Homo sapiens: one gene and its partner. The protein of the gene in region 2 purifies or fractionates together with the protein of the main gene of each other region. This does not show direct contact. Each region holds a gene or a part of one and is shown on either strand. Other genes may lie near its edges.

Region 1 (7,033 bases), on a different chromosome or scaffold from region 2:
CGAGATCATCCTGGCTAACATGGTGAAACCCCGTCTCTACTAGAAATACAAAAAAAAAAAAAAAATTAGCCAGGCATGGTGGCAGGCGCCTGTAGTCCCAGCTACTCGGGAGGCTGAGGCAGGAGAATGGTGTGAACCTGGAGGCTGAGCTTGCAATGAGGCGAGATCGCGCCACTGCACTCCAGCCTGGGTGACAGAGTGACGCTCTGTCTCAAAAAAAAAAAAAAAAGTGTGCTTTAAAGTGCATTTAAAGCAAAACTACTAAAACGTTTACATGTGGCTCTTAATAGTTTTTACCTGTGACTAGGTAAAAATTAATAGGTTTCCTGATAGGGGAAAATGACCATTTTTCATTCAATATAAGTCACCATTAGGCTTCTTCACTGGCTCTTGTGCTTCTTGTCAAAGGAAAAGTAAAGTTAGTGACTCTTCACTGCCTGTTAATATAAAATAACTAGTATGAAGTGTGATTGTAGATTTACATTTAAAGGATGTCTTCTTGAAACTTTCATACCGTTTTGGGGTCATTGGTATCCGTAAGGTCATTTTGCCTGTAAAGCTTGATTCTCGCAGACTTTTGGCTGATTGTTCCTTGTAGTCATCACAAATCTATGAATAAAACCAGGAATGGGACATTGTAGCTTGTCAGTCCTCTTTTCAAACCCTGCTTAACAGTCATATTCAAGGAATTACTTATTTTATGTTTATAAATAGGATCTGCAAAGGACACAGCACAACAGGATTAGTAGCTGTGATTTTTTTTTGGAGACAGAGTCTCACTCTGTCACCCAGACTGGAATGCAGTGGCGCGATCTCGGCTCACTGCAACCTCCACCTCCCAGGTTCAAGCGATTCTTCTGCCTCAGCCTCCTGAGTAGCTGGGATTACAGGCGTGCACCACCACACCCAGCTAATTTTTGTATTTTTAGTAGAGATGGGGTTTCACCATGTTGGTCTGGCTGGTCTTGAACTCCTGATCTCGTAATCTGCCAGCCTCGGCCTCCCAAAGTGCTGGGATTACAGGCATGAGCCACTGCGTCTGGCCAGTAGCTATGATTTTTTTTTTATATCCTAAACTCTTTACTGTATCATTTGGTTACATATGTTGAGACTCTCCAGTGTGTTAGAGACAAAAACCCTGAAACCGCCACCATTGATACTTCTATCCCTTCTGATTTGGGGACTCTCAGAAGACTATACGTCCATTTTTCCCCTACCTTACCACCAGTCTGATTAATGGGCAGTGATTCTGGCTTCCCTAGTATGCCTTCTAGGTGTCAAACACACACCCAATGGCAACTTTGATTTGAGAATTAGAAACTGCTAAGATTTGAACTCTTGATTATCTGTTGTAAAGGTTCTCTAGTAACTATTCTTAATGGAAAATGATACAGTTCTCTAAATAATTTGGATTATTTGACAGTTAAGCATTCTTCCCAAATACCTTTCACTAATCTAAGTACATTTCTGTGACCATCTGTCATGATCAAATTCCTCTCCCCACCCACCCTCTAGAAACACACTCAAAATAGTCCAAGTGCACCGAGTTAGGATTTTTTATGAAAATATTCTCTTTAAGCCTTTTTCTCCTTTCATTCTCCTTCCCCCAACATAGACAACCACTCTATCGTGTTTGGTATGGATTGTTTTATTTGTGTATGTTCCCATAAAACATTATTGGAGGGTTTTATGTATTTTTATGTTTTTAATTATTATACATATCATGTATATTCATAGTTTTAAAAATGGTACAGAAGAATCTACATTGGAAAGTCAAAGTTGCCCACCCTGACAATGCCCAGGTCTGCTAGCACAAATGTCACTATTGTGTTTATAGGTAGTTTTTCAAGTACTGGATACAAATGTACGTATACTTGAAATACATAGATATTTTCATATACTCTCACATACAATCCACATTATATTAAATGTACTTCTCTTGCCTTGCATTAACCTTTAAAATTTTTTTAATTTAATTTAATTATAGATTCAAAGGAGGTTACAAAAACGTACTAGGAAGTCCTAGTATTTACTGCAAGGAAACCAGAGGTCTCTTCACCCAGTTTCCCCCAATGGTAACATCCTGCATAACCTCAGAACAGTGTCAAAACCTGGAAATAGACGTTGATACAATCCACAGATCTTAATCAGATTTCACCAGTTTTACACACACTTGTGTGTATCTGTATAGTTCTTTGTGCATATATTTTTTAAATGCCTAAGTGGCATTGTGCTACATGTTACTGTATTTCTGCCTTCACTGCTTATCCACACAGTTCTACATATAGCTAGTTTGTTGTTTCAGCTCCTGAAGAGAATCTAGTATGGGTCTTTCACCTATAACATCCTTGTTTCCTAGTAGTAGACATTTAACCAACTTCTAACTTCCTACCTCAGTAGATAATACTGCAGTGACTGTCCTCACTTATGTCCTCTTGTGGATTTGTGTCAGAATTTCACCCAGATACATCTGCAAGAGTTGGGTTGCTGGGACATTTGTATATTTGGCTTTCCAGAATGTCTGTGTAAGTCCCCATGCCCACAGCCATAGCATGAAGGTATAATTGTTTAAGATATAATCCTTGGATTTAAGAACTAGAAGGTTTATATCATGGAAAACCATTGATTGGACTGTGGAAGAAAATATTAAAAAAAAAAAACCTCTCCGACTCATAAGATATTTTTTAATTAAATTCAAGCTACAGATAATTTATAATTCCTGAATGGTATACTATCTTATAATTTCAGATCCTTTTTTCACAATCTCATTCTCTTTCCTTTTCCCATCTCCCCAAGTAGCATTTCAGAAAACACAGATTAGTAAACACAGTTTCCATTGACTTATTTTTGAGAAGAAGGCTCTTGGCAACAATATCTAAAGTTTTGAGGACATCACTTCATTTCAGGCCAGGTTGATAGTCCTAGAAAATGAAAGAAATAAGGGCAAGTAATAATTTGGCAAAAAAAAAGGGTCTTGTATAGTAAATAATCACTGTAGTTGAGATTTAGACTACCCTCCCATCATTCATCCTGCCAGTTATCATGTGCTGTGGTCACCTACACAGCTAGGAGGTTGGTGGCTCACCTGCTGCTGTAGCCAGTAACTGCTCAATGAAAAGGGAATTTTAGGCAAATTGTCACAAGACTGGCTGGATGTCATAGTTAGGCTCCTGTGAAATAAACTGATTTGTATAAAGATACATTGCTGTTCTCTGTCAGTGAACTCAGTTATTTGAAAGATACGTTTGTGATTGTATTTGTCTTACTCATTTTTGAAAACACACAGTTTGCAAAACATCTTATTTGCATTCACCGAAGTAATACCTTGTGGGCAGGATAGTCAAATGGACTATTTAAGTACCTATTAGGTATCAGCAGCTCACCTTTTTTATTCAGCTGAGCCCCCTTGGTGAGATACTTGTATTATCCTGGTTATGTTATTTAGAATCTTATAATACCTTTTATGAAATGGGTGTAGGAAAGCTATATTGACTGGTCTCAGGAGCCAGTCCATGGGACAGTATTTTTTAATTTAGTAAATTTAGTTTCCATGTCAGCATAGAATCATGGCACTTTTGTTAATTGGTTTCTATTGAGTACTTTATTTAAATTTCTTCAGTGAAAACATAGCCTTAATTTGATTTGTTAATATAAAATTATCAGCTGGAGGTAACTCCTACCAGATATTTAAGAAAACTAAATTTACTACTAGGTGTGCTCAAAATCAACAATCAGTGGGTTGTAGTGAGAAACAAGAAGCTATTAAGACTTGTAAATATGAAAATAACCCACCACAGAAAAAATTGTAAGTATATGAAGTGATGGATTTGTAACTTAGCCTGATTTAATCATTTTATGTTGTAAACTTAGATTAAAACATCACATTGTACCTCATAAATATATACAATTACTATTTGTCAATTAAATTTAAGATAAATAAGAATTTTAAAACATGAATTATTGAATGGCTAAGTGTTAGTACAGTATATGTACTTCATTAGCATATAGTATGGAACAGGATAACTTGGGTGCCAAGGTCAGAAGTTAATCTGGGAATGAGAAATATTCCTGCAGTATGGCCCCACCTATTGCAGTAACAGCTACCAAGCTGTGAGTTGTAAGTAAGTATTCACTGCTGACCAGTGAATCTCCTGCCCTTTCACTTTCCAGACGCCCTTGCACTTGGCAGTGATCACTAAGCAGGAAGATGTGGTGGAGGATTTGCTGAGGGCTGGGGCCGACCTGAGCCTTCTGGACCGCTTGGGTAACTCTGTTTTGCACCTAGCTGCCAAAGAAGGACATGATAAAGTTCTCAGTATCTTACTCAAGCACAAAAAGGCAGCACTACTTCTTGACCACCCCAACGGGGACGGTAAGAGACAATCACACATCATTGGTGTAACTTTCTCCACCTTCTAAATATCTACTAGGTATTTGATAAACGTGTGTTATTTGATTTGCACCCAAAAGTGCTTTCCTTAGTCACCTGGAGTTCATCATCTCTTTTGGGCATTTCTGTTGCTCACCAAAGCTAATTTTTTTAAAGATGATTTGGAATAGTTAGTAGGAGGAGAAAGCAGAGGCCTGAGTAAAGATTCATCTTGAAGTACACAAAGCGTCGTTTATTCAGAGAATGTTTATTTATGTTCATGTCTCCTGAGAACATAATAGGAGACTGTGGGTCTTCAAAGCAGAACAATAGACTTATAGTATCTTTACTGTCCCTCCCCATGATTCAGTTTTTGCCATTTCCTTCAGCTTCACAAGGGCCATCTTGTGAGTTAGCCATCCCATCCTGTGACTGTCCCTTTGCTTGGACTCTAGGTCTGAATGCCATTCATCTAGCCATGATGAGCAATAGCCTGCCATGTTTGCTGCTGCTGGTGGCCGCTGGGGCTGACGTCAATGCTCAGGAGCAGAAGTCCGGGCGCACAGCACTGCACCTGGCTGTGGAGCACGACAACATCTCATTGGCAGGCTGCCTGCTCCTGGAGGTGAAGGGCACACTTATTTGCTTTTGCATTAAATTTCTGAGGGAGATTTAAGGAAATCTTTTCAAAGAAGGAAGTCAGTAGCTGCTGTTCTCCCTTACAATCAGCTCTATTTGTTTAACATTTATGGAGGGCTTCAGAGTACCACCTTTAGACATTCCCCCAACCCCCTTGCTTGGCATCTCTAACTGGGGATTTCTTCAATGACAGAGCCAGCCCAAAGTAGCAATTGGGCTAGTAATAGGACCCAAGGAGCCATGCACACTGGGAGGTGGGGACAAAAGGGCAAAAGAACCTTCCACTAACGCTTTCTTGTGTGGGCTGGATTGTAGGGTGATGCCCATGTGGACAGTACTACCTACGATGGAACCACACCCCTGCATATAGCAGCTGGGAGAGGGTCCACCAGGCTGGCAGCTCTTCTCAAAGCAGCAGGTAAGATGGTGATCTGGCGGTCATTAATGAAAAATGTTACCAGGAATGCAAACCCAACTTCAATAGAGCAGTCATGTTGCCTTCTTTAAGCCACAGACCTACTGCTGAAAAACAAGGGTAAATAAAAATTATATGGCAAATCACATTTTATCTGCCATAAGGCACTGTTTGGACTAGTAATCTTGGGCTTTACCCTGATAGTCATTTTAGTTTTTACTTTCTGATTCATCTGTTTGTTTGGGGTTTGATTGTTTAGATTGACTCCCATGACAAAGGGTCTTTTCAAAGTAGAGTTTGATTCCTTATAGAATTCTGAGTGGTATTAGTCTCAGATCATATCAGAAGGCCCCAGAAGAAAAAGATTATTGGTATAAGAAATCATTTAAAGACTTCATTTTGAAAGAAATATCTCTTAGAAATTGAAGTGTAGGAAAAAGAAAATGGGCCATGTATTAAGACCCATTATGTGGAAGGCACTAAAAATGGCTAGCACTTATTGACCTTTCTGTGTACCAGGCACTGTGATATGCACTTTATGTGCACAGTCTCATTTAATGCCCAATCACCCCTTGTGACAAATACCATTATTCCCCATCTTAGAGTCAAGGAAACAGACTAGAGAGACTACCAGATCCCACTTCAGGGTTCCAGTAAGTGACAGAGCTATGAATCACACTTCGGCAGTGTGAACTTCAAGACTTTATTCTCTGTACTATGTTTCTCTCTCCTATTTTGCTCATAGGTTTGCAGATGTTATTCCATTTAATTCTCTAGTCCTGTGAAGTATAGAAAATTATCCATGCTGATCTTTGAATCTCCAGTGCCTTGCATATTTAGAACCTCAAAATATGTGTAATGAAATTGGCATCTGAAGCCTGCCCTGACATATCTGATATACTTTAGAGGCTTTTTTTTTTTTTAACTTAAAAGGTAAATGCTTCATAAATTCAAGAAAACAAAGCAAAAGACATAGGAACTTTTTCTTTGGGACACCATATTTTTCTTTTCTCTTTTGTTAAATAGAACTTTTTCTTGAACAAGAAACTCTGATTGCAGTGGGTATTAATAGTTTTAGAAGACACTGATTAATTAAATGCCTTCCAACAAGAAGCTATAACCAGCCAGACGTGATGGCTCACACCTGTAAACTCAGCACTTTGAGAGGCTGAGGTGGGAGGGTCACTTGCACTAGGAGTGTGAGACCAACCAGGTTAACATTGTAAGACCTCATCTCCATTAAAAAATTTAAAAAGTAGCCAGGCATGGTGGCATGCGCCTATAGTCGCAGCTAGTTTGGAGGCCGAGGTAGAAGTATCACTTGAGCCTGTGAGTTCAAGGGTGCAGTGAGCTACAGTTTCACCACTGCACTCCAGCCTGAGCTATAGAATAAGAATAAGACCCTGTCTCAAAAAAAAAAAAGAAAAAGAAAGAAACTATAACCCTTTTAAAAATGCTTTATATTGAATTCTCAGAATCCCATGAAAGGAAAAGCAAGTAACAGTTTCTCTGATATATAAATGAAGAAACTCAGATGAAAAACCAAGTCCTAATCTTAATGTCGTGGAAAAGGTCAGTTAAGTCCGAGTGTGGTGGCTCACACCTGTAAT
Region 2 (7,322 bases):
TTTCTTTCTTTATGGAGTTGTGGTATTGCTCTGTTGCCCAGGCTGGAGTGCAGTTGTGCCATCACAGCTCATTGCAGCCTCAACCTCCTGGGCTCCAGTGATCCTTATAGCTTAGCTCCCCAAGTAGTAGCTGGGACTACAGGCCTGCATCAGCACAACCTGGGCTTTATTTTTTATTTTTATTTTCAGAAATGCTCTGGCTATGTTGCCCAGGCTTCTCTCAAACTCCTACCCTCAACTGATCCTCCCACCTCAGCCTCCCAAAGTGCTGGGACAGATTTTCTAACAAACCCCTTCATCATACGGATGAATAAGCTGAAGTTTACAGCCCTTATCCTTGTGACTGTCACTAAGTGGGTAATCAGTAACTACTTGCTCTTTTGTTTATGGCCTAAGTTGTTCAAAATGACCAGTCCATACTAGAATACAAGGTTCCTAATTTCAACACCAGTTTCTTTCACCTCAATCATACTGAGTGATGTGCTTTCATTGGGTCTACTATAAAAATCATTATAGCCATAAATTTTATTTATTTATGTATTTATTTGAGATGGAGTCTCGGTCTATCGCCCAGGCTGGAGTGCAATGGCATGATCTCAGCTCACTACAACCTCTGCCTCCCAGTTCAAGCGATTCTCCTGCCTCAGCCTCCCGAGTAGCTGGGATTACAGGTGCACGCCACCATGCCCGGCTAATTTTTGTATTTTTAGTAGAGATGGGGTTTCACCATGTTGGCCAGCTGGTCTCGAACTCCTGACCTCAAGTGATCTGCTCGCCTTGGCCTTCCAAAGTGCTGGGATTACAGGCATGAGCCACCACGCCCCACCAGCCATAACTTTTACTTCATATATTTTTTTAATAGCTTGAGATATAATTCACATACCATATGATTCACTCATTTAATGTGTAAAGTTGAATGTCTTTTAGCATATTTTCAGAGTTGTGTATTCACCATTATAATCAATTTTTAGAACATTTTCATTATCCTAAAAAGAAACCCCATACCTATTAGCAGGCACTCCCATTTCCCCTCATCTCACCCTCTCATGCCCCTGAGACCTAGCCAATCACTAAATTCACATTTCATACGAATGGAATTGTACAATATGTGGTCCTTTGTGACTGACTTCTTTCACTTAGCTTTTTCAAGATTCAGCTGTATCTCTGGGCATGGTGGCTCACGCCTGTAATCCCAGCACTTTGGGAGGCCAAGGTGGGTGGATCACCTGAGGTCAGGAGTTTGAGATCAGCCTGGCTAACGTAGTGAAACCCTGTTTCTACTAAAAATACAAAAAATTAGCCGGGTGTGGTGGCGCACACCTGTAATCCCAGCTACTCGGGAGGCTGAGGCAGGAGAATCGCTTGAACTTGGGAGGCGGAGGTTTCGGTGAGCTGAGGTTGCACCATTGCACTCCAGCTTAGGCAACAAGAGCGAAATTCCATCTCAAAAAAAAAAAAAAGATTCAGCTATGTCATGGCATGTACTTAAAATTTTTGTTTTCTTTTCTATTCTTTTTTTTTTTTTTTGGAGACGGAGTTTTGCTCTTGTTGCCCAGGCTGGAGTGCAATGGCTCGATCTTGGCTCACCACAACCTCCGCCTCCCAGGTTCAAGCGATTCTCCTGCCTCAGCCTCCTGAGTAGCTAAGAATACAGGTGCGGGCCACCACGCCCGGCTAATTTTGTATTTTTAGTAGATACAGGGTTTCTCCATATTGGTCAGGCTGATCTTGAACATCTGACCTCTGACCTCAGGTGATCCGCCCGCCTCGACCTCCCAAAGTGCTGGGAGTACAGGTGTAAGCCACCGTGCCTGGCCAAAAAAAATTTTTTTTTTTTTTTTTGTCAGGGATGAAGGTCTCACTATGTTGCCCAGGCTGGTCTCCAACTCATGGCACAAGCCATCCTCTTGCAAGTGCTGAGATTACAGGCGCGAGCCACCACGCCTACTCCCCTCCCCTCCAACGACTTTCTTTTTATTGCCAAATAATAGTCCATTGTATACCTATGTCACATTTTATCCATTCATCAGCTGATGGTTATTTAGCTGAATTTTATTTTAACTAAATGTTATCTCTGATAACTGGCAGAAGCTTAAAATCAAGACATAAGTGTGTATCTTTCTATGTTGAACGTATACCTAAAGAAGTATACTTATTAGGAATGACAATTAAAATCTCGTACTTGAAAAATCGATACTTTTTTCTTTTTTCTTTTTTTTTTTGAGATGGAGTCTCACTCTGTCGCCCAGGCTGGAGTGCAATGGTGTGATCTCTGCTCACTGCAACCTCCGCCTCCCAGGTTCAAGCTATTCTCCTGCCTCAGCCTCTTGAGTAGCTGGGATTATAGGTGTGCACCACCATGCCCGACTAATTTTTGTACTTTTTAGTAGAAATGGGGTTTCACCATATTGTTCAGGCTGGTCTTGAACTCCTGACCTTGTGATCCACCCGCCTCGGCCTCCCAAAGTGCTGGGTTACAGGCATGAGTCACCACGCCCGGCTGATACTTTTTTCTTTAAATTTTTTGATGTGTATGATAATATTGTGGAAAGAAAAAGTAAAGCCTTGCCCTATGTTTTTTGGCTCTTCTGATCCCCCAGGAAAAGAGAGGCATGCATATAGGTAGACCAGGTGAGTGACAGCCCTCAGGAAGAGAAAATAAAAGAGGAGAGATTCAGATCAAGACTTTTTCTAGTTTTCAAATATGAAAGGTTAAGAAGAGAAAGGGCATTTGCGGCTCACAGCCAACCAGCTGGTCGGCATTCCTACTACCCAAATATCTAAATGACATAAGGGTGAATGTGGGGTGAGGGTGAGAACGGGAAAAAACACAGGCCGCAAATTCAGTCCCATCTGGCACTTCATAAGACTTAGTATTTTCATCTTTGTCCTTCCAAATTTATAGGTTTACTCTTGCCCAACCTTCATATTGTTTTTATGGGTCTCCAGGTGGGTCATGCGTAGGAAACTTTAGGGGACTACTTCATACTTGGTGGGAAGTACTTAAACTTGTAAACCCCAAGCTAAGGGTAGTTATGATCCCGGTGGGTGGCCAATTCTCCCCTTAAACCTATGTTTATCCTGCCTTTCCTCCCCCTTTTCTTAAACGAGTCGGGACGGAGAGCTGAGTCACCTGAGACACAGAGAAGGGACTTTTGAGAGTGTCTTCCGTCCCATTTGCGGACGTTAGATGAGCACACCGGGATCCTTGACTCAGCCCGCTCTAGGCGTGGGCGTTGTGTCATTCCCCACACGTGACACTCTCCCAGGCGGCAGAAACCTCACTTGTCATGGGACTTATTCACTCCAGTGACTCCACCCCTTACCTCCTCTGTTCCCCAACCTCCCACTTACCCTTTCCGCCCCACTTCAAGACTTGAGGAGAGGAGGGTGGCTGGAGCCTGGAAATGTCCCCGTCCCAAGTTGGCCAGAAGTAGCAGACACACTATGTGGGAAAGTGCCACATGTAACGTTCCAGTTTCACCCTTCTCCAGAATGCTATCACCCTTCCTGTTTATTTTTTAATAACTTGAGATATAATTCACACGCCATATGATTCACTCACTTAACGTGTAAAGTTGAATGTCTTTTAGCATATTTAGAGTTGTGTATTCATCACTATAATACATTTTTTAGAACATTTTTATTATCCCAAAACGAAATCCCATACCTATTAGCAGTCACTCCCATTTCCCCTCATCTCACCCTTGCTCTTCCATAGCACAAAACAGTTCTATTCTATTCGAGACCACCTTTCCACTTGGGCAGACCCTGGTTATGGTTTTTTTTCCCTCCCTTTCTGTTTCCAGTTTTTTTCGGAGCCCGGAATTCTCAATCTGGGTAATTGGTTTGAGTCCCGGCTCAGCCCGTTTCCCGTTGTAGCTGCGTGACCTTGAGAGCAACGCCACTTTCCTGGGCCTAGTTTCTTTGTCTGTGAAACGAGGTCCAAATATCTACCTCTTTACGCCTGTTGTGGGGATGAAGTGAGTAGGTGCTTTGTGAGCTTTAAAAAGCCATAGAAATGCCAGCTAAGTTAACTCGTCACTCTTCCCGAACCCCTCCCTTTCCCCTGGGACCCGCCCCGCGAATCCCGCTGTGGATGGATACTTCTCCCCACCCGCCGACCGCAGTCTTTCCCATTGGCGCCCGCACCGTCTTCGCGGCGCCGGGTGTTGACGCCATGGCTTCCTCCGCCAGCGCCCGAAGACGCTTGGCCCCGCCCCCGGCCGCGCCTGGCCTCCCGCGGCGCCCCGCCCATCGGGCCGACGCGGCGCCGGCCCCGCCCCGCGGATGACGTGTGGCGCGCGCGGCCGGGCCGCCCCGGCAGTTGGTGCAGCGGCGGTTGGGGTGAGAGCGCCTACGCCACCCCTCCCCTCCTCCGGCCCCGGCCCCCACCCCGCCGGGCCCAGCCCCAGCCCCGGCCCGGGCTCCAGCCCTAGTACCCGTCCCAGCCCGAGTCGGGTCCGTCCCGTGCGGGCAGGTGCCGCCCCTCTGCCGGCGACGCCCCGGGCCGCCCGCCCGTCCGCTTGCCACCATGGAGCTGGAGGACGGTGTGGTGTATCAGGAGGAGCCCGGCGGCTCCGGGGCCGTGATGTCGGAGCGGGTGTCCGGCCTGGCCGGCTCCATCTACCGCGAGTTCGAGCGGCTTATCGGGCGCTATGACGAGGAGGTGGTCAAAGAGCTGATGCCGCTGGTGGTGGCTGTGCTGGAGAACCTGGACTCGGTGTTCGCGCAGGACCAGGAGCACCAGGTGGAGCTGGAGCTGCTGCGGGACGACAACGAGCAGCTCATCACCCAGTACGAGCGGGAGAAGGCGCTGCGCAAGCACGCTGAGGAGGTGAGGCCGGCGGCAGGGCGGGGGCCGCGGGATCCGTCTCCGGGGGCGGCCGGGGCGGGGTCGCGGCCCGGTCGGGGACTAGAGGCGCGACGGGCCTCCTGGAGGGCGGGCCTGAGGCCGATGCCCCCTGGGACCGATCCCGGCGGCCTCCAGGTACCCCGGGAGCCAGGCCGGCGTTGGAAGCCGAGGCCGGCTACTGAGTGTCCTGGGAAGGGAGCGAGATGGAGGAGGCAGGGCCCGGGGAGGAAGCGGCAGCCTGGCCTGAGGACACCTGGGGTTGGCCAAGGGCGGAGATTGTTGGGTGTCTGGTTGCTTCTTGTTGAGGGAAGTTTCCGACCACCGTGGGATAGTCAGATGGCGGTTCAAAGTTTTACCCTTGGGGAGGGGGACACTTCTGCCCTGGATATGTAACTTCCGCTAGTTCCAGTACCTTTCCAGGGGGTTGCCTTGCTTTGGGAAGTTAGAGATCTCCCTCTTTCGGTCAGTTTCTTCTTGACGTTTTAATCTTGTTGAGAAAGACGTCTTATTTTATGTTCTATGTGCCTTGGTTGACACTTTGTCAACTTTTAGATGTTGTGTGGCAGTACTCAATAAATATATAAACAATTTCGTTGGTATCCCAAACCAAAGCATTCCTCCGTATCAGGTTGTAACCTTGGACAGTTCCCTTCAAAAACCCTCCGTTTATTTATAAAAAGGATTGGGGGGCGGGGTTGGGAAGATGTAGGTGACAGTTGGCAACACTTTTTCCGTCTGAGTTTCCTTCTTAGACTGCTGTTTATACGTGCATTTGGCCACCTGTTAACTCTAGCACCCGAGCAGTGACCTGGGCGCCCTCACCTCGACTCTGTGAACCTTTTGGAGTTCTAGGGTGCAAGTGATAGGTCCTTGGCTTCTTGAGACTGACAAGGAGTTTAGCTTTCAGCCTGCGTTGGCGTTATTTCTGTGGACCTTATCAAAGGCAGGTGATGTGTCCTATTTTTGTTTCTCAAGCACCTAGCACACCTGCTTAAATACATGGTGATCAAAGGAGGCGAAATAACTAATTATTGAAGGAATGACATAGTATTTTTCAAAAAGACTTGAAGAGTTTTTAGGATGTGAGGTTTGTAGCTCATTTCCTGACACTGAATAGTAACACCATTAAATTTTTGTTTTATTTTGTCACGTATACCTTTGCATCTGGTTAAATAGTTCTTTTTCCTTTTTTAAAAGCTTGACTGTAGTGATGATTTTTAGTTCTGATTGTGGGATCCAATTTTCTCAAAGGAATGCTATTGAATTTGCCAAACAAAATTGCCTTTTTTTTTTTTTTTTTTTGAGACGTAGTCTCACTCTGTCGCCCAGGGTGAAGTGCAGTGGAGTGATCTTGGCTCACTGCAACCTCTGCCTGCCGGGTTCAAGCGATTCTTGTGCCTCAGCTTCCTAAGGAGCTAGGACAACACTCCCCGCTCATTTTTGTTTTTTGTAGAGACAGGATTTCTCCATGGTGCCTAGGATGGTCTTGAACTCCTGGCCTCAAGTGATCTGCCCACTTTGGCCTCGGGCTGACCATCCCAGTGCTGGGATTACAGGCATGAGCCACCGCACCCCGCCAGAATGGACTATTTCAAGAGCTTTTCCTTTCATATAGGGAAGGAAGGGATGAAAAACCAAATAATGATAGGATCACAATTTCCGCTTGTTTGTTAGCACTCTTTATAGAACAGAGGTCAAGTGCTACTTGCTGCTTCATGCTCATATAGCCCCTTGCCAGTGTGTGGATATACATGGAAGTGACTGGGAATTAACCACATGTACACACAGGTGACAAGCAAGCCTGACATGACCTTTTACCTCACGTAAAATAAATGCTCCCTCCAGCCTTAAACTCCTGTCAGTCCGTGTAAATATGGGCAAAATGCCAGGGTCACACGTGCCAAGAAAACCATCTGCCACAGGTTGCAGAATCAGAAAACAAAATTGCCCGACTGCTAGACTCTGGGTTCCCTATTAATTTCTTGAGTAAATGACTCTAAAAAAAATAGGTTATCCAATGAATTTATTTGTAGTTTATATTTTTTCAGTTACATCTGTAAATTCTCCATAGTGAAACCATTGGGCAAAGGGTCATGACCTGAGAACAGAGAACATTTATGAAATGCTAAATGAGCCCACTCCCAGGCCACAAACATAAACACACCTTGTTATCAGTTTTCTTTTCTCTTTTTTTTTTTTTTTGAGACAGAGTCTCTCTCTGTCGCCAGGCTGGAGTGCAGTGGCACGATCTCGGCTCACTGCCTCCCGGGTTCAAGCAATTCTTCTGCCTCAGCCGCCCGAGTAGCTGGGACTATAGGCACGTGCCACCCCGCCCAGCTAATATGTATATATATTTTGTATTTTAGTAGAGACGGGGTTTCACCTTGTTGCCCAGGCTGGTCTTGAACTCCTGAGCTCAGGCAATCCACTCGCCTCAGCCTCCCAAAGTACTGGGATTACAGATGTG

The links. The genes of interacting proteins can lie anywhere in the genome.
Region 1: the proteins of SPAG9 (region 2) and NFKB1 purify together in Homo sapiens (affinity purification with mass spectrometry; 5 studies listed by BioGRID and IntAct, with this or other methods). This does not show direct contact.

Annotation. Positions count from the first base shown.
Region 1 is NC_000004.12:102,602,326-102,609,358, forward strand, and holds part of NFKB1 (nuclear factor NF-kappa-B p105 subunit), read left to right. Parts: intron 1-189; exon of another isoform or gene 190-661; intron 662-4,170; coding exon 4,171-4,372; intron 4,373-4,824; coding exon 4,825-4,994; intron 4,995-5,323; coding exon 5,324-5,426; intron 5,427-7,033.
Region 2 is NC_000017.11:51,117,869-51,125,190, reverse strand, and holds the start of SPAG9 (C-Jun-amino-terminal kinase-interacting protein 4), read left to right. Parts: upstream 1-4,322; 5' UTR 4,323-4,534; coding exon 4,535-4,837; intron 4,838-7,322. UniProt on the Homo sapiens protein: The JNK-interacting protein (JIP) group of scaffold proteins selectively mediates JNK signaling by aggregating specific components of the MAPK cascade to form a functional JNK signaling module.